4 linked regions of the Homo sapiens genome follow. The protein of the gene in region 4 purifies or fractionates together with the protein of the main gene of each other region. This does not show direct contact. Each region holds a gene or a part of one and is shown on either strand. Other genes may lie near its edges.

Region 1 (4,889 bases), on a different chromosome or scaffold from region 4:
TCAAGCAATTCTACTGCCTCAGCCTCCCGAGTAGCTGGGACTACAGGTGCGCACCACCATGCCCAGCTTATTTTTCTATTTCTAAGAGACAAGGTTTCACCATGTTGGCCAGGCTGGTCTTGAACTCCTGACCTTGTGATCCACCTGCCTTGGTCTCCCAAAGTGCTGGGATTACAGTTGTGAGCCTCCGCGCCCAGCTGCCTTCCTGGCTCCTTGTGGGAGGTCTGGAAAATAATGTCAAGAATATGCAATACTTGGCACTAGTTTAAAATCTTAAGAATTGCTTTTCTTTCTAGAAAGACAATTTCACAGAAAATGTTTCCTTCCAGACAAAGAAACAAAAATGGTAGCCAATAGTTACTGTTGATCTAAGTGATGTTTCTGAAGGTGTTCCAGTCAAAGAACAAGGTGCTGGACCATATTAAACATTGGGTTTTTAATGCCTTCCCCGCTAAAGTTCGTTTTTTATAGCTAGGAGTAACAAGCAATTGCCAGCAAAGCTGGAATAGGAAAATCAAATATTCTGCCTATTTACATATGGTTCCCCGAAGCCATTCCTGATTAAAAATTGTACCATTTCAATCTTCCTACTGGAGATATCTATTAACTAGAACGGCATGTGAAAGCCAATGAATTTAGTATATAATTACACGTATCCTATACAAATTACTTCTCAATGACCTCTACTCATGAAAATAAACCAAAGAGGGATGACTGGCTCATTATAAATCTACAAGAAGATTTCCCTGGGAAAAGGTATTGAGAGCAGAGTCTTGAAAGATCTTAAGCTTCAACTGAATTTAATTTCAGCAGGAAGCAATCACTTCTGTATCTGAATTCCCAGTGCATTTTACGTGAACCTCTCCAGTGGCAAGGAACACTTTCCAACTTAAATCCCTGCTCTTATCACTAAGTAGCAATGTGACCTTGGCCAAGCCACTTCCCTTCTCGGTGTTTTCATTTGTAAAATGAAAGGCTAGAATCAAGTGATTTCAAAAGTCTCTTTCAAACCCAATGTTTCATCATTTCATAATTATAATCACGAGAGCCCACCTATTACCTCCCTATTACCTCAAAGTGAGAAAGCCATTGATTTATCTTTGGAGTTCCCATACTGTCTAGAACAGCTCATTGACAAACAAGTTCAAGGACACAGAAAAAAATACAATTCTCTGAAGTGTCCACTCTCTATGACCTCCTTAAGCCCTTCTCAACCTCAACCAAAATTTTAAACCAAATGATTCTCTTCAAGTCCACCTTTGCCATAGTTCTGGCATTCTGCCAAGGATTATAAGACCAGAAAACTAAACAGATATCACTTGTCACTTAGAAGACATGCGCCCACCATAGAGTTTCAAGGCACATGCTTTGTACACCATCTGACCCAGAGCCACATGCTTTGTATGCCGTCTGACACACAGCCAGACACCTACAGAAAGGTTCTGTTTCATCGAATAAGATAATCTGATGCATTCCAATCATCTGAGAGTATGTGCTGGAAAGCTACAGCAGATGTGGGTGAGAAGTAAAGCTGGAGAAAGGAAGACACCAGGACCTGAAAGAAAAAGCAAGTGGAATGTCCCCTTAACCTTTCCAGAAGGTGGACATTTTAAAAATCCAAGTCCCTGGCCAGGCGCAGTGGCTCACACCTGTAATCTCAGCACTTTGGGAGACCAAGGCATGCAGATCACGAGGTCAGGAGTTTGAGACCAGCCTGGCTAGCATGGTGAAACCCCGTCTCTACTAAAATTATAAAAAATTAGCTGGGAGTAGTGGTGCATGCCTGTAATCCCAGCTACTCGGGAAGCTGAGGCAGGAGAATCACTTGAACCCAGGAGGCGGAGGTTGCAGTGAGCCGAGATCGTGCCACTGCACTCCGGCCTGGGAGATAGAGCAACACTCTGTCTCAAAAAATTAAAAAAGTAAAATAATAAAATAAAATCCCTGAGACGGCTACACTGCTGGGATAAGAAATACCTGCTCATAATGCACATAGCCTTAGGTGTTAAGATTCTGAAGCCTGGATATTTGTCCTCAAATCCTAACTCTGCTAATTACTTGCTGCATCACCATGAACAAGTTAATCAACCTTCTGTGACTCAGTTTCCTCATCTGTAAAATGAGGATAGCAATAGTACTTCATTACTATTTTGTTCTTTGAATTGTTGGGAAGACAAAATGAGTTAATGCATGTAAAATGCTTATAACAGCATGTAGCACGTAGTAGGTGCTCAATAAATGAGCATTCCCAGTATTGCTATTATTATTAGATGGAGTTCTGAGAATTTCTGCAGTTAAGAGAACAAAGGAGGCCGGGCATGGTGGCTCAAGCCTGTAATCCCAGCACTTTGGGAGGCCGAGGTGGGCGGATCATGAGATCAGAAGATTGAGACCACGGTGAAACCCCGTCTCTACTAAAAATACAAAAAATTAGCCGGGCGTGGTGGCGGGCGCCTGTAGCCCCAGCTACTTGGGAGGCTGAGGCAGAAGAATGGCGTGAACCTGGGAGGCGGAGCTTGCAGTGAGTGGAGATCGCACCACTGCACTCCAGCCTGGGCGACAGAGCGAGACCCCGTCTCAAAAGAAAAAAAGAAAAAAAAGAGAACAAAGGAGTTTGCACACCGCTCTTACAGATTCAAATTCTACAGTTCCCTCTTTAAGTACCAACATTTCTATATTTATATGTAATTTATATTTGTATACTTTGTCAGTCTTAATTACTCCTGAGCATAGAAACTATTCATTAGACATTTAAATTCCTTTCTGAAAGATATTCTAGGTTTCAAAAACTACTTGATCACCCACGGGAAGGGAGTACAATAGGACTATTAAACTGGAGGGCTCAGAGTAATTGGGAGCACAAAGACATCTTTGTAGAGCTTTGTACTATCACATACCACTGCTTCAGGTTTGGAGAGTTGTCTCCTTAAGAAAGAAACTAACTCCATTGTTCGTTCACATCAGAGTTCTTGGATGTGATAGTTCTTAAATCCCTGGCAAGTCCTTATTAAAGATCAGAGGATCTCCGTTCTTTCCATTAGGACAGCGTTAAATCCCTTCAAGCGATTTTCTTAGGTCAGCATCATTATTTGAGATGCCAGAGAAAGTGGTGAAATTTCCAAATGCTAAACTAGTTCCTTGTTTCAGACTGAAGACATAAGATAAAGTTAGAAAAAATATTAGTAGTTCTGAGGAAATTTTTGAGACTGGGAAATTGTAAGAAATTTAAAGAGTACTTTAAAGATCTTTTTTTTCTTAAATCTCTTTTCCAAAACAGTAATTTTAGTAAACAAATAACAACAACAAACAAAAATCCAATCAAATAACTAGAGTTGTCAGAAAATAATGACCCTGGAAAGTTCCAGTCATTCCCTGATGGGATATCCAGAATTCTGGTTTTCCAAACATCTTTCAGTAAATCAGACAGGAGAGCTAATACTATGTCTTGTATCCCTTTGCCAAATAATCAGACACAAAAGAAAGTCAACAGAGGTCATGCTCTCCTCCATCTGTTCAACTACCATTTTTGTAATTCTATTCTAAGGAAAAATGAGGGCCATAAACACACAGAAACAATAATAGAAGAAGAGAAATGTGGGTGGGCTACTAAGAGGTAGCCTACGATCTGTTTCAAGGGGATTATACATCAGAAAATGCAAGAACAAGTCTACCACAGCCACCCAACAAGGTCTAAAACTGCAGAATTGGGTAAAGAGCTAGGGAGTTTCCTGAAAATAGAGGACTGTCTGCTTACAAAACCTACCTCAACTGCTTCTGGCAAGGAAGGACAGTAGTTACAAACTATAGGAAGCCAAGAACAAGTCCATATTTGACAAATCACACCCATCAAGATAGTGATGTCAACCATAATAAAATATTTTGGCAGGTCTGGAAATGTGCACCTGTGGGAACCTGGAAAGATTTGACAGATTTTTGTTTTCCCAGCTCTTTATCAGCAAGTTAATTATAGCAACTGTACAATCTCCTCTGAGCTGTAGAGAAGACAGTCGGCTGTATGAAACCAAGAGGCTGCTCTCCTGGGCACAAGAGAGACAAATGACAGCAGTGCTTACGTGCGAAAATATTCTGAGTACAGTATAACAATGAGCCAGCTAGCATGGCCAGATGAGAAAGAGGCATATTCTGCAGACATACAGGTGTGACAAGACTAAAAAGGACACATGATACACACACACGCATGTGCATGTACACACGCAAGCACACATGCAAACATGTTCATGTATATGCGTGTGTATCTCCAGAGCCTAAACAACTCGGGTCATATTATTACATACAGGGCTGCTTTTTCCAAGAGCAGACTGTACCTTCACAGCTATAACTGTACACTGCCACCGCTGACCTGTCCACCAGATTTTCATCATGATGCCAGCTCACTGCCATTTTCCCCATGCCAAAATAAGGTTCCTCTTTCAGGTATGGCATTTTCTGAGGATCCATGAAATTCAGCAAAGTTACGTTGTATGCTGCTCTGCTCTTAATGTCCACTTCATCTTGTCCGTTGTAGGATGAACCCATCCCAACCCTGGGGAAATCTGCAGACATACACAATGGCACAGCATCCTCATTAGCCTTCTCTTTGGCAGCAAGTTCTTCCAAAGCCTGGATGGTTTCTATCTGCAGGTAGTCATTGAGCTTGAGGAAGGTCTCACAAGCAGCGGCTATTTCAGCCTCGGTGTGTTTTATATTAGACCCTTTCACTGGCCAGGGGACCGTAAAGAGCCTGGTGTTCAGGTACTTGTAGGTGCAGCCTGGATTACCAATGAGGATGCGAGATACCGGAGTGAGCAGATCTTTGCCTTGGATCCTAACCAGGTCCCGAAATAAGCAGCCATGCTTGTGCAGTGTGAGAAAGGCTTCTTGAACCTCTT
Region 2 (4,889 bases), on a different chromosome or scaffold from region 4:
GAGTGATGTTAAATTCTTGGCCAGCAGTTAATGTATAGAATGATTTTGTTGAATGTCTTTTGTCTTTTATCAGAGTAACCAGAGAGCACAGAGAAATGCTGGTGAAACTGGCCAAACAGAACACCAACAAGGCCAAAGACTCTTTACGGAAGGTTCGCACCAACTCAATGAACAAGCTGAAGAAATCCAAGGATACAGTCTCAGAGGACACCATTAGGCTAATAGAGAAACAGGTACTATTGCCAGCAATGTAGTAGTGTCTGTGTATTCAGCATAAGGAATCATTTGTTCATGTTTGAGGTGAGGACAGTTAAAACAGAATACCTCTGATCTTTCATTCACATTATCACCATTGTCTGAGTCTCTGTTCTGGGCCTAGCCTAATGCCAGATTCAGAGGGATCCATAGAGGAGGATAAGACACTTGTATTGTGTACCAGGTTTTGTGCTGAACACTTTATATTACTTCATTTACCCTCATCACTACAAAACTATGAGGTAGGTAGTAAGGAAACTGAGATTCAGGCAAGTTAAATAACTTGCCCGAAATCACACTGCTGGAAATTGGTAGAAATCGGATCCATACTTAGGCAGACGGATTTCAGAGCCTCTACGCTAATGCTCTCCTGTCTGGTTTTCCGGTTGCTGAGAATTGAGCACTTAGTGTTCTCAGTGTGCTGAGTAGTGGCACTTGAATAAGTCTTAAGCTGCTGGAGTAAAATAGTGAGAGACAAGGGGGAAAAGTGTAACCATATGTACAAAGGTAAGGTGATATAAAAACAATATTCAGTTAAGATCATTGGGGTTTGAACGTAGGATAAGACTAGGGAATGAATAAAGAAAACAGAGTGGCTAGATAATAGAAGGAAGGTCTCGTACACCAGGTTTAGGAGTTTGAACGTTAACATGTACAGACTGTCCCACATTGGCTGTGCATCTATATTAGTCATGTATGGCCACAATAATGGTACATAACTACCCCAAAACTCAGTGATCGACAATATCAAAGCATTATTTCTTGTTCTCATTTCCATGGGCCAGCTGGGGTGTAGCTATTCTAGGCTGGGCTCAGTGGGCTTGGCTCCAGATCTTGGATTGGGTTCAAATCTGCTTTATATCTCTCAATCTTCCAAAGCCAACAGGTTTCCTAGGGCCTCTTTTCATGGTAACAGCAGATGCCAAGATCATAAGCCCAACCACTCAAGTACATTTTAAACACCTGCTCTTGTCACATTTGATTGGCCAAAGCAAGTCACATGGGCCAAGCTCAATATGTTTGGTACAAGGAAATATATATATTTATGGAGGTCTGGGGAAAGAAGTGAATATTTGCTGAACAGCATCTCTCTACCAAAGTACCTTAATCACTTGGGTAGCTTATAAAAATCCAGGTATCTGGGGCCCCATTTCCAGAGATTGAGTCAATGAATCTGGGACAGAGCCAGGAATCTGTATTTTAAATCCTTCTCAGGTGATTCTCATACAGTGACACACTTAAAAGATTTTTTTTAGATGATGGAGAGAGCACATCTATGTTTATGAAAGATGACTATGGTGGCCAGGTAGAAAACAGATTGTAGGGGGCAAGACTGGAGGCAGGGCGATAGGGATGCTGCTGCAGAAATCCAGCCAGGAAGTGATGGTGGCCTGAACCTGAGTGGCACCTGTGGAAAGATGTGGAGATAGAATTAGTAATGTTCAATGTAATATAAAGGGTTTGATAGGCCTTAAAGCCTCCTCATCCACAATAAAGCATTGTTTTAGGGAGATTGAACAGGCATGTGGGCTGGATAGGGAGTGAAGAGAGAAGCGAGAAGCAAGGGACCCCTGGAGAAGTCCATAAGTTGACTAGCTGCTCCCCTTCTCCTCCACCAGCAGTTAAAATGCTAGTTTTACTAGCATTTTACTAGTAGGACAGCCACAACAGTCACCTGGGGGGGGGAATTTTAGGTGGCTTCCTGGGCCCTACTCCTGCATTTTCTGATACAGTAGCTCTGCCTAGGAATGTATATTTTTATTTTACTTACTTTTATTAATTCATTTTTCTTGAGATGGGGTCTCACTATGTTGCCCAGGCTGGTCTTGGGCTCCTGGGCTCAAGCAGTCCTCCTGTAGCTGGGATAACAGATGCGTCCAGCTGGAATGTATAGTTTTAAAAAGCTCTCAGGTAATTGTGTAAAAGCACACATAGAAGATAATGACCTAGAAGCCTGGTAATGTACCTGTGTAATGACACTAGAGTTAGAAAAAGATTGTTCTGCACTTGATGTCCTATGACCTTGGGGAAGTTGCTTGACTCTTTGGAGTCTGTTTTCTGTAAAAAGGGATTGGTAATTTCTGCCTTGAATGGTTTCCTTGGTATGCTAGAAAGCACCATTAGTGTACCTAACACCCAAACCCTCAAAACTCCCCTCTTGCCATCTCTCTGCCCTCCTCCTTCCCTGTATCAGCTAAAAGAAGAGGTTCAGAGATTAGGCGGGCCTTTCCTGTGCACTGACCAGGCCTCATTAATAGTCTGGGCCCTGGCTCCAGCTGGGCCGGCTCCTTGTCTTTCTCCTAGGGGATTTCTTCACTGCTTTCCCTTGTCATTGCTTCTTGGTGGTAAGCCTATGGACCTTCAGGGCCTGCCAGGCACTAGTCACTCAGCAAGCCAGGACATCTGCCTCAGGGACCAGAGCCCACAACTCCTGAAAGAGGAAGAATGATCAGATAGCAAGCATTCTTGATAAAACCCTCTTGACAAAGACCTTGCTGGAAGCCTTCACTCATTAGCACTGGCTTTTCGCCATCCTCTTCAGATTAAATTTTTTTTCTTTAGTGCTTCTTACTGTGATTTTTTTAAGTGAAAATAGCTGTATTCGTTTTGCTGTTAAAACAAGGAAGAAAGTAATTGAAATCTCATCACTCAGATGACTGTTGTTAACATTTTAGTGTAGAACTTCAAGTTATCTCTCGAAACAAGAAAAAGTATCATACAATTTATATGATACGATATATCACAGATATCTTTCTAAACATATTATTATTTAAATGTTTATTTTTATTTATTTTTTATTTTTGTCACCCAGGCTGGAGTGCAGTGGTGCAATCTTGGCTCACTGCAACCTCTACCTCCTGGGTTCAAGCGATTCTCCTGCCTCAGACTCCCGAGTAGCTGGGATTACAGGCACGTGCCACCATGCCCTGCTAATTTTTTTATTTTTAGTAGAGATGAGGTTTCACCATGTTTGCCAGGCTGGTCTTGAACTCCTGACCTCAGATGATCCGCCCACCTCAGCCCCCCAAAGTGCTGGGATTACAGGCATGAGTGCCCAGCTAAATGTTTATTCTTAACCAGGATTGTTAATAACTTAATTTACTGTCATAGAGTTAAAAGTTTGGAACAGTAGAGAGCCTTATATATACTTCATGGTGTTCTTTCTACTGTCAGAAGGCCCCAGACTGGAATTTTTGGTGTGTGTGTGTGTGTACGTGTGCGTGCATGTTTTAAAGATATAAAACAAGGTTATGGCTGATTGTCGCTTCATCAGACAGTTTTAAAATTTTGTTTACTTTTGTTCCTTATTATCAAAGTAATATATGTTCATTGGAGAAAGTTCATCCTCCCCTCCCACATTGGAGAGGCAACCGCTCTTAACATTTTGGAATATTTCTTTTTTCCTTTTTTCTAAAAAAAAAAAAAACTACATAGTTTTAAACATGATTGAGAACATATAGTATATATACAATTTTGTATTCAGCTTTTTATTTTCTGTTTGACCTCAAAGGTATTAGCATTTTTCATGTCTTGAAAAACTCTTTGTAAAACTCTTTCTGATGGCTGCTAAATAGTTGGTGGTGTGCTGTTCACTTTCATAAGCCCTCTTTTTGGACATTTTAGTTTGTTGAAACTTCTTTGTTATAAGGTTGCAGTGAATATATATATATATATATATAAATCTTTGTTGAGATGATTTCCTTAGAATAGACTGGAACGTCCCAAGTGTGGAATTACTGTACAGAGGGATTGCATATTTTTTGTAAGATTCTTGGTACATACTACTGTGTTTTTAGAATATATATGTATTTAATTTGCCTTTTATAACCCCTAACACTTGAACCTAGAATTTTTTATCTGAGCTGAAAATGTTGCTTATCTGGGAACTGTTGCTTTTACTTTCACACTCTACAGAAAAGATTGTTATTCTTTGTATAAATCCATACGACCTTTCTAAAGGATAATATATACTAAAATCCATACATTTCTGATTTAGTGACTTAGGAATTTGCCCAAAATAAATAATCAAGAGCCTTATTTATAGGAATGTTCATTGATATATATAATAGTAGAAAACTGGAAACTGTCTATAAATTTCTGACTGTGGGAAGTAAATTGTTTTACATTCATTAGAATCTACATAGAAAGTTATAAAAATATTTTATAGACATGGTAAATTTTTTTGGAATTTGCTTTTAAAAGGTAGATTATACAGCAGTTTGATTTTAGTTTTATAAAGAAAAGTCACATGCACATGGGGTTGGCAGCTTATACATGTCAAAATATTAAAGGTGGTCATTTCAGATGATGGGATTATAAACAATTTGGATTTTATTTTGAGTGAGATTATCTTTTTTAATTTTCAAAAATCTTTTGAGGTCAGATTTTTTAAAGCTTTATTATAAAAATGCTTCTTCAATTTTTGGTGTATAAGAATGAAATGATAGGCTGGGCGCAGTGGCTCACGCTTATAATCCCAGCACTTTGGGAGGTCCAGGCAGGTAGTTCACAAAGTCAGGAGATCGAGACCGTCCTGGCTAACACGGTGAAACCCTGTCTTTACTAAAAACATAAAAAATTAGCCGGGCATGGTGGTGGGCATCTGTAGTCCCAGCTACTCGGGAGGCTGAGGC
Region 3 (4,889 bases), on a different chromosome or scaffold from region 4:
GCGAGACTCCATCTCAAAATAAATGAATGAATGAATGAATGAATGGTTAACTGGGTGTGGTGGTGCACACCTGTAGTCCCTGCTACTTGGGAGGCTGAGGCAGGAGGATCACTTGAGCCCAGGAGTTTAAGGCTATAGTGAACTGTGATCATGCCACTGTACTTTAGCCTGGGAAAGAAAGACCCTGTTTCTATTAAAAAAAAAAAAAAGTCAGTAATGACAGAGTCTAATAACAAAAAGGCTGCGTGTGGTGGCTCACGCCTGTAATCCCAACACTTTGGGGGGCCGAGGCAGGCGGATCACCTGAGGTCAGGAGTTCAAGACCAGCCTGGCCAATATAGTGAAACCCCGTCTCTACCTAAAAATACAAAAATTAGCCAGGCGTGGTGTTGTGTGCCTGTAGTCCCAGCTACTTGAGAGGCTGAGGTTTACTTGTGAGGAAAGGATTACTTCAGCCCAGGAGGCAGAGATTGCAGTGAACTGAGATCGCGCCACTGTACTCTAGACTGAGTGACAGAGTGAGAGTCTCTCTCAGAGGAAAAAAAAAAAAAAAAAAAAAGCATCAGGACCGGGGGGGTCCTGCATTTGATACCCAGCCTTGCTTCTTTGCTGTGGGTAAGTGACTTTGTCTCTCTGAACCTCAGTTTCCTGAACTGTAAAATAGGGCTATTAAAGGTAGGAGAATTCACTTAAGAGGTAGACAGAGTCGCTGTACATAAGCAGGAGGTTTCTTTTTTAGAGTGATTGAAATATTTTAAAATTAGATTGTAGTCATGGTTGTTTGTACAGAAGTCATTGAATTATGTGCTTAAAAGGGATGAATCTTATGGTATTCTAAATCGTATCTCAAGAAAGCAAGGCTGGGGCATGGTGGCTCACATCTGTAATCCCAGTACTTTGGGATGCCAAGGCGGGGTCATTTGAGGCCAGGAGTTCAAGGCTAGCTTGGGCAACATTGCAAGACCTCATTTCTCCAAAAAAAAAAAAAAAAATTAAAAACAAGCTGGGCTTCGGCATGGCGTGGTGGCTTATGCCTGTAATCCCAGCACTTTGGGAGGCCAGAACAGATGGATCACCGGAAGTCAGGAGTTCAAGACCAGCCTGGCCAGGCCAGACATGGTGGCTCACGCCTGTAATCCCAGCACTTTGGGAGGCCAAGGCGGGCGGATCACGAGGTCAGGAGATCAAGACCATCCTGGCTAACACGGTGAAACCCCGTCTCTACTAAAAATACAAAAAATTAGCCAGGCGTGGTGGTGGGCGCCTGTAGTCCCAGCTACTCAGGAGGCTAAGGCAGGAGGATGGAGTGAACCCGGGAGGCGGAGCTTGCAGTGAGCCCAGATCGAACCACTGCACTCCTGCCTGGGCGACAGAGTGAGACTCTGTCTCAAAAAAAAAAAAAAAAAAAAAAAGGCCGGGCACGGTGGCTCATGCCTGTAATCTCAGCACTTTGGGAGGCCGAGGCAGGTGGATCATCTGAGGTTGGGAGTTCGAGACCAGCCTGACCAACATGGAGAAACCCTGTCTTTACTAAAAATACAAAATTAGCCTTGTGTGGTGTCGCATGCCTGTAATCCCAGCTACTCAGGTGGCTGAGGCAAGAGAATAGCTTGATCCTGGGGGTCGGAGGTTGTGGTGAGCTAAGATCCTGCCATTGCACTTCAGCCTGGGCAATAAGAGCGAAACTCCGGTCTCAAACAAACAAACAAAAAACACCAAAGAAAAAAAAAAAACCAGCTGGGCTTCCTGCTGGCTCACACCTGTAGTCCCTGCTACTCAGGAGGCTAAGGGTGGGAGGAGGATTTCTTGAGCCTGGGAGTTTGAGGCTGCAGTCAGCTACGATTGTACCACTGCACTCCAGCCTGGGTGACAAAGTGAGACCCTGAGACCCTGTCTCTAAAAATAAAACAGAAAGCTGTTAAGCTGTTAAAAACAAAAACAAAAAAATATATATATATATAGTCAAGAAAACTCTGACCTCCAGCTCTTCTCTCTTACCACCTCCTATAGACTCTTGCAGAACTTGAGGTACCCTCAAACCTCAGCCCCTAGAGGAAACCCAGCTCAGCTGCCTGGTGCAGCGGGGAGGAAGTCTGTCCTGCTCTCACCTCTTCTTGACCCTGACCTGCAGTCCTTTACCAAATCCTGGTCACTGAAGTATTCAAATACTTGTCTGTCCTTCCCTTCTTGAATACGGTCACTGCCCACAACATGGGCCGCGTGGACAAGGACCATAGCCAACTGCTCATTGGCTTCCAGTAAATCCAGCCTTCAGCTATCTAATCCCTGGCCTGCTCAGAAACCCTCCATGACTCCCTATCACCCCAAGAAGGAAAGTCCCAGCTCCTCCACCTGGCATTCAAGGCTCTGCCAACCTCACCCTTCCTCCCATCAATCAATTTTTTTTTTTTTTTTAGGGGCAGTGTCTCTCTCTGTCACCTGGGCTGGAATGCAGTGGTGCAATCATAGCTGACTGTAACCTCAAATTCCTGGGCTTGACCAGGCTCAGTGGCTCACACCTATAATCCCAGCACTTTGGGAAACTGAGGCAGGAGGATCTCTTGCGGTCAGGCGTTCAAGACCAGCCTGGCTAACATGGTAAACCCTATCTCTACTAAAAATACAAAAAAATTAGCTGGGCATGATGGTGGGCACCTTAATCCCAGCAACTCGGGAGGCTCAGGCAGCAGAATCGGTTGAACCCAGGAGGTGGAGGAGGCTGCAGTGAGCCAAGATGGCACCACTGCACTCCAGCCTGGGCCACAGAGTGAGACTCCATCTCAAAAAAACAAAAACAAAAACAAAAAAATTCCTGGGTTCAAGTGATCCTCCCACTTGAGCCTCCAGAGTAGTTGAGAATACAAGCATATGCCACTGTACCCTAATTTTTTTATTTTTTCTTAGAGACAGGGTCTCGCTATGTTGCCCAGGCTGGTCTCGAACTCCTGGGCTCAAACAATCCTCTTGCTTTGGCCTCCCAAAGCACTGGGATTACAGGTGTGAGCCACTGCACCTGGCCTACACCAACCTACCTCCTCCTCCTCCTGCCTCCATCAAGATTTCTCCCTGCTCCCAACTTTTGCCCAGGCTGTTCCTCCTGCCCAGAATGCCTGTCCTTATGAACTCCTACACATCCTTCAAAGCCCAGCTAGTGGTCGCCTCCTCTAGGAATTACACCTCTAACCTTTTTGGAGAAGATTGAGCCATCCAGGGAGGCTTCTTTATGTTTACACCAGGGGTGGGGCAAGACCAAGCTAGAGTCTCTCTCAGGTACCACCCTCCCACATAACTTTTACTCCTTTGCTACCTGTGCCAGCCATCTGCTCCATTTCACAGAGGTAAAAACTAAGGCAAAGTGGGGCACCCACAGTCATAGAGGGAGAAATGTGGCAGAGCCAGGTCTCAAACCTGGAGTTCTATGCTCTCAGCTATCAGGCAGAGCCGCGCGTGGTGGCTCAAGCCTGTAATCCCAGCACTTCGGGAGGCTGAGGCGGGTGGATCACCAGAGGTCTAGAGTTCGAGACCAGCCTGGCCAACTTGGCGAAACCCTGTCTCTACTAAAAATACAAAAATTAGCCAGGCGTGGTGCCAGGTGCCTGTAATCCCAGCTACTGGAGAGGATGAGGCAGGAGAACTGCTTGAACCCGGGAGATGGAGGTTGCAGTGATCCAGCCTGGGCGACAGAGCAAGACTGTGTGTCAAAAAAAAGAAAAAAAAAAAAAAAAAAAAAAAGACCTATCAGGCAGAGATGCAGAAAAGACCTTCAAAGAGGTTTCCCTGGGGTTTCCAGAAGCTGCTGGGAATGTTCGGGGACTTCCCTCACCTGGGAAGGTCAGCATCTGCTCACCCACCCTCCAAATCAGAAGCAAAGCTGATCATTTGATCATTTACCCAGAGGCTTCCTTGCCCTGACACAATGATAGGAGAACATCCTTTGTCACTCACCGTGTCATTTTCCCCATCAGAGGAGGTCTCACCTGATTGCAAAGTAAATGCAGAAGTCATGTCCCAAGCTATTAAAGGCCTTGCTGGGACTGGAACCCAAGGCTAATCCCAAAGCTACTTGGCCAGTTTTTATTTTTTAGAGACAGGGTCTTTCTCTGTCACCCAGGCTGGAGTGCAGTGGTGTCATCACGGCTCACTACAGCCTGGACCTCCCAGGCTCAGGTGATCCTCCCACCTCAGCCTCCTGAGTAGCTGGGACTACTAGTATGCCAGCACGCTTGGTTAGGTTTTTTATTTTTTGTAGATATGGGGTCTTGCTATGTTGCCCAGGCTGGTGTCCAACTCCTGGCCTCCAAGCGATCCTTCTACTTCGGCCTTCTAAATCACTGGGATTATAGGCATGAGCCACGTGCCTAGCCTGCCCAGTGCTCTTCTGTTTTTTCTTCTTTGATTTTGTTTTGTTTTCATTTGAATTCCTTATTTTGGCCTTGATAACTCTTTCCCACCATTCGAAGTCCCCAAAGTAGGAAGGACGCAAAGAGAAATTCTCGGCTGGGGGCAGTGGCTCACGCCTGTAATCCCAGCACTTTGGGAGGCCGAGGCGGGCAGATCACAAGGTCAGGAGATCAAGACCAGCCTGGCCAACATGATGAAATCCCGTCTCTACTAAAAATACAAAAATTAGCCGGGCGTGGTGCTGGGCGCCTGTAATTCCAGCTACTTGGGAGGCTGAGGCAGGAGAATTGCTTGAACCCGGGAGGGAGAGGTTGCAGTGAGCTGAGATTACACCATTGCACTCCAGGCTGGGGACACAGCAAAACTCCATCTCAAAAAGACAACAACAAAAAAAGAATTCTCAGCCAGGCAAAGTGGCTCACGTTGTAATCCCAGCACTTTGGGAGGCCGAGGCGGGCGGATCACCTGAGGTCAGAGTTCAAGACCAG
Region 4 (5,560 bases):
GTAGGAAAACAGAAAATAACAAGGCCTTAAGCTGGAAACTGCCTTGAGCGTTCAAAAAACATTCAGGAAGCAAGGGTAATTGGAGCACATGAGTAAGAAGGAGAGTGGACTGAGATGAGATCTGACAGGCAACTGCAGCCTTGGAGCTAAGACTGGCATTTTGGTTTTTACTGTAAGTGAAATGAGAAATGTAAATGAGAGAGGCCTGAGAGAAGGGTTGTAATTGAGCAATGTTTGCCACAATCAAAGTGATGTTTCTGGATACTGTGTAGAGAACAGGCTGCCCATATTGCGCCTTATGGATAGTCACATGGACTAGGTGGGACCAATTTGAACACATATGCTCTAGGACCAGTGCTTGGCTCATGGATAACATATGATCTAAGTAGATCTGAGACTTTACTGAGGAACTTTTGCTGAAACCTAAGCGTGTACATTCTGCTACAAGGTAGAAGCTGGTGGGGTATTCATTCAAAGCTATTGGTGAGTAGAAGCTGGTGGGGTATTCATTCAAAGCTATTGGTGAGAACCTACTGAAGAACAACACTAACAAAGAGTTCACCAAGTTTACCAAGAGATGAAAAACAACAGAAGGTAGAATGAGGAAAGACCTGAATGAAGCCGAAAGCTATCTTTTAACTTTCAGGTAATGTGAACCAAAAAAAAATAAATGCCCCTTATTTTGTTAAATATTTTAGAAAAGGTTTTTTAAACCTGCCATCATAGAGCCTTAACCTTTTGAGACTATGATTGTAACAGTGCTGTACAGACCTCAGGTATAACTCTTTTGTATGTGGTATGGCCTGAGGATGACCTTGTACAAAGGGACCTGCCCCGAGATGAATGGTGATAAGTGGAGCATCTCTTATTTTCCCTTCTCATAACATTTCTTCTATATTCTCCTATTTTTCCTTTCTGACCCAGCTATCCTCCCCATATTGCCAGTTTCCAACTTTCTCTGTTCTTGGTGTCTACAACATCATTTCTCCAAATCTATTAGATTGCATTTCTTCTCATCCTAACTTCCACCAGCACCCTTTCGTAACATTTGGTCAAGCTCTAAAGTTCTACCACTCAGAGAGAGAACAAGATGTATTTAGTCAGACAATGCCAACCCCTCTCTGCCCCCTCACCTAGAATTTGTACTGAGTATGTAAAGAAGAGAGAGAAGCCGATCTAAAAGGACGAAGGCGGTTTATACATACCTGGATATTTGATTCTTGCTTAGAATATCATTCCTTCTTTTAAGAAATTACTTTATATCTCTTTTATTTGGTTTAACTTGTTTACAAGCATTTGTTTTCCTCTTTTTCTTTTTTTGCCTCTTGTACCCTCTCTGTTCCCCTCCCTCCACCCTTCCCCTCCTTTTCTGTTTTTAAGATAAAGTGTTGATTTGGAATTCAGCAACTGCAAGTCCATTTGAAAGAAGTCAGTTTTGTTAGAGGCCTGGATAGAGCAATATGTTGTAACCAAATCACACGTGAACATTCTGTGGCTGAACATAAGAAATTGTGCATTATTAACGTTGTGCTTCAAGGTGGAATGCTGAAAGCACTTGGAAAGTAGTTGCCAGAGAAGAGCTCACTGAAAACATTATTAGCTTTATATATCCACTTGTAGAATCTCTGTGCAGTGATACATCCCTCCCTTTCATCTTGATCATAAATATAAGACTTAAAGGAGGCAGAGTGAACGTGCTTAGGAAGCCCACTGAGAGCTCTCAGAAAGGCGCTTAATACCTTTCTTAGTAAGTTGAAAGTAGGTTGATCTTCAGTTTTAATCCAGAAGACAGATTGCTGCTTCTTCCTGGCTTGAATTCTAGAAATAAGAGAAAAGACAGTCAGAAATATATAACATGACTTCCTTGAAAACAAAATAATAGTTTTGTAGACCGTAAATTATGAAGATTTCCTAAAAATCACAAAACAGAGGGAATGGACTGCACAGTAAAGTGAACATTTGAGTTGTATAAGTGTGTGGAAACTACAACTATGGAGATGGGTGCAACGCTGATGGGGTACAGCCTTCTGGCTTAAAAACCTGGAAGCTGTGGAAGCCACCAGCAGCGGGGCTTCCACAGCCTCCCGAGGCAACCCACCAGCTGATGAACTGTCATGAGATCAGCAAGGAAGGGTGAACCAAGTTCCATGCCCCCAGTCACTACCATGACATATACCAAACACATCAAAGACCAGGATGTAGTGCTAGCACCTGGTCTTCCTCTAGGTACAGCTATAATTCGGCATGTTGAGGCAGATAAACAAGGTAAGGCCCTTAATGTATGATGCTACTCAAAAGAAACAAGGACCATCTATATACAGAAGATCCGCTATCAGAGCATCTCTTGTCATAGCCACCTCCCCTCACCTCCACTAAAGAAAACTGAGGAGTCTGTGAAAGGAAATTAAATTGTGGGACCCCCGAAACTCATTTAGCCAAAGGGAAAAGTCAAGCTAGTAAGTGGGTCATGCAAACCTGCCTCCCCCTTTTTGGTTCCTGAATAAGATGGCTACAAGATGAAAAGCCACATGCCTCCCCCATATTTTGCCCACAAGTTAACTCCTAGTGAGCTGTTAAAACTTCACCATGACAAACAAATTGGGAGACATTAATATAATAATAAATCATGAGCTTACAACTGCCTTAATTGTCACAGACACAACTATATCTCTGATAAATCCCACCTGATTTAGAAAGCCCATTCCTCAGAGTAATGAAAGAATTAACATGGTGGCTGCGTCTAATAAAATGATCTCACGTTTTAAGTCCAAACCTATACCTTACAATTCCATCGGGTTCAGCTCCCCCGCCGCAAGCTCTAATTGTGTGTGACATGCTCCGTAGGTACCATATGTTTCTTATATGCCCTGGGGCCCCTGTCAATCTTTTGAGCTGTGATCTCCTCAACATCCATAATGCCCATATCTTTTTTTCATCAAAACGTGAACTTTTTTTAGAATTGGGGCCAGGAGACCAAGAATACCGAATTACAAAATGTCCTGACAACGTACCACAATTTAGTACTAGTAGTGTTGAAACATCGTCTTGTGGCCGGGAATATGAAATAGAGACACAGAAGGAAATAATAGAGGAGAAGAGAAAACACTGGAATAAAGAGCAGGAAACGGTAAAACTCCTTTTAGCTTCCCCAGTCTTCCTGTTAACACCAGAAGAGGAACGCTTGCTCAAGGATGTCTCCTCCCACTTACGGTCTCAGTCAATACAGATATAGGGAAAATATTCTCAGCCACTCCAATAAAGGTAGAGATAAATCCAAAGAAACCCCTGCCTAGCCTTAAACAATACACTCTATAGCAGGAAGCCGCAAATGGAATTGCCCCTATTATACAAGACTATCTAAAAAGGGGCTCATTATTCCCTGCACCAGCCCCTGCAACAGCCCTATGTTCCCTGTAAAGAAACAAAGCAGGAGAAAATGGAGATTTGTGCAGGACTTGAGGGCAATAAACAATATTGTAATACCCAGGCACCCAGTAGTCCCCAACCCACATGCCGTTTTATCAGCTATACTCACTACCAGCCAGTATTTCTCAGTTGTGAATCTCTGCGGTGCCTTTTTCAGTATTCCTGTAGATCCAGACAGCCATATTTGTTTGCTTTTACTTGGAAAGAATGGCAATATATGTGGGCTGTCATGCCCCAAGGGTATACAGAAAGTCCCACTTACTTTTCCCAAATACTAAAAGCTGATTTAGTGGATTTAATTTTTCCCCAGGGCTCAACACTCGTTCAGTATGTGGATGACCTTCTCCTTTGTCCAGGCACAGCATCTTCCTCCCAGGAAGATAGTCTACATTTACTCAGCCAGCAAGGGACGCAAAGCGTCTGAAGACAAACTTCAGCTGTGCTTACCGGAAGTTAAGTATTTGGGGCATATTATCTTGGTCAAAGGACTGAGTATTAACCCTGATAATGTGAGAGAAATTTTAGCTTTCCCAATGCCCATCACTAAGAAACAACTTAGAGGATTTCGGGGACTGGCAGGCTGTTGTAGAAACTGGATACCAAATTTCTCCTTTGTGGCTCACCCTCCATATGCATACCTAAAAAATGAACAACCTGATCTCATCATGGGGACTCCAGAGGGAAAACCAGTTATATAACAAATAAAGGAAATTCTCACTAATTCCCCAGACTCACAGCACCCAATCTACAAGTTGCCTTTCTCCCTTTTTGTATGCGAAACTGGAGGTACTGCATCCAGGGTACTGACCCAGAAACATGGTGATCATCAGAGACCGGTAGGCTATTATAGCCAACAGCTGGACCCTGTGGCTCGAGGGCTGCCTCCTTGTGTAAGAGTAATAACAGCATGGCCCTTCTGTACACGTCTGTTGAAGAAATAATTATGAGTTCTTATGAGTTCCCCCTTACCATTTTTGTGCCACATCCTATTGAGACCCTTCTAAATTCTCATCATACCCAGTATCTGTCTGTCAACTGCTTAGCCTCTTACGAAATTTTGCTTTTATCTTCTCCCAATATTACTATTTCCTGCTCTATCATCTTAATCCAGCCACTCTCTTGCCAGGCCCTTCCAACAAGACCCCTCATGACTGTGTTCTGATGACTGACCAACTTCTCACCCCCAGGACAGACCTATAAGCGATGCCACTGGATAATGCTGAGATAGAATGGTATACAGATGGGTCTTATTGAAGATGAGAAAATGGACATTTTAGAGCAGGATATGCTGTGGTTTCCTTACTAGAGGTAACTGAAGCCAGTCCTCTTCCCCATGCCAGATTGGTTCAAGCAGCCAAATTGATTGCCCTGACTCGAGCTTGTCAAGTGGCAAAAGACAAGGCTGCAAACATTTACACTGACAGCCGCTAAGCTTTTGGGGTTGCTCATAACTTTGGGATGCTATGGAAAGAGAGAGGATATTTAACCTACTCAGGGCAACCCATAGAAAATGGGCAGCAAGTATCAGCGCTGTTAGAAGCTACTCTAAAACCAAAACGTTTGGCAATTATAAAAATCCCAGGTCACTCAAAATTAGACACCACAGAAAGTCAGGGTAACCAACTGGCTGAAACCACAGCTAAAAGAGTAGCATCTGAGCCACCAGGTATGTTATGTAAAATGCAGAGTCCTTGCATTTTTCCTCTGCCCCTTTTGTTTATGTCATCTTATGCAAAAAAAAGCACATTCACTGAGCCAAAGGCCATGAATCACTATTTTCCCTACCCAGCTCTTACATGAAAACGGTGCTTCTCGATATCCCATCCTTTCCCCTTTAAATTTGCAGTCCTTAAAATCATCTTCAGAGAAAGGCATAGACCTGTCTCCCAGGCCCACATCCTTAACTTTGGCAAATAAATCTCCTAAAATGATTGAGACTCGTCTCGTCATTTTCCTCAATTGACAAGTCTACACCAACCCCAGCTGGACATCTCACCAGCCACACCAGATTCAAGCAGCAAATAAAAGGTGGAAACAGAGCTATACATACATGAAAATGATGAGAACTAACAAAATCAAAATACTGTGAGATTGGGATTAGAAGAAAAGACATAACATGCAAAAGTTATATACA

The links.
Region 1: the proteins of NAT1 (region 4) and FTO purify together in Homo sapiens (affinity purification with mass spectrometry; one large-scale study listed by BioGRID and IntAct). This does not show direct contact.
Region 2: the proteins of NAT1 (region 4) and MRRF purify together in Homo sapiens (affinity purification with mass spectrometry; one large-scale study listed by BioGRID and IntAct). This does not show direct contact.
Region 3: the proteins of NAT1 (region 4) and ICAM1 purify together in Homo sapiens (affinity purification with mass spectrometry; 3 studies listed by BioGRID and IntAct, with this or other methods). This does not show direct contact.

Annotation. Positions count from the first base shown.
Region 1 is NC_000016.10:53,825,928-53,830,816, reverse strand, and holds part of FTO (alpha-ketoglutarate-dependent dioxygenase FTO), read right to left. Parts: coding exon 4,326-4,889; coding exon of another isoform or gene 4,296-4,325; intron 1-4,295.
Region 2 is NC_000009.12:122,313,154-122,318,042, forward strand, and holds part of MRRF (ribosome-recycling factor, mitochondrial isoform 1 precursor), read left to right. Parts: intron 1-73; coding exon 74-233; intron 234-4,889. UniProt on the Homo sapiens protein: Responsible for the disassembly of ribosomes from messenger RNA at the termination of mitochondrial protein biosynthesis. Acts in collaboration with GFM2. Promotes mitochondrial ribosome recycling by dissolution of intersubunit contacts.
Region 3 is NC_000019.10:10,277,392-10,282,280, reverse strand, and holds part of ICAM1 (intercellular adhesion molecule 1 precursor), read right to left. Parts: intron 1-4,889. UniProt on the Homo sapiens protein: ICAM proteins are ligands for the leukocyte adhesion protein LFA-1 (integrin alpha-L/beta-2).
Region 4 is NC_000008.11:18,215,669-18,221,228, reverse strand, and holds part of NAT1 (arylamine N-acetyltransferase 1), read right to left. Parts: intron 4,353-5,560; exon of another isoform or gene 4,336-4,352; coding exon of another isoform or gene 4,235-4,335; intron 4,188-4,234; exon of another isoform or gene 3,536-4,187; intron 1,819-3,535; coding exon of another isoform or gene 1,740-1,818; intron 1,726-1,739; exon of another isoform or gene 1,206-1,725; intron 1-1,205. UniProt on the Homo sapiens protein: Participates in the detoxification of a plethora of hydrazine and arylamine drugs. Catalyzes the N- or O-acetylation of various arylamine and heterocyclic amine substrates and is able to bioactivate several known carcinogens.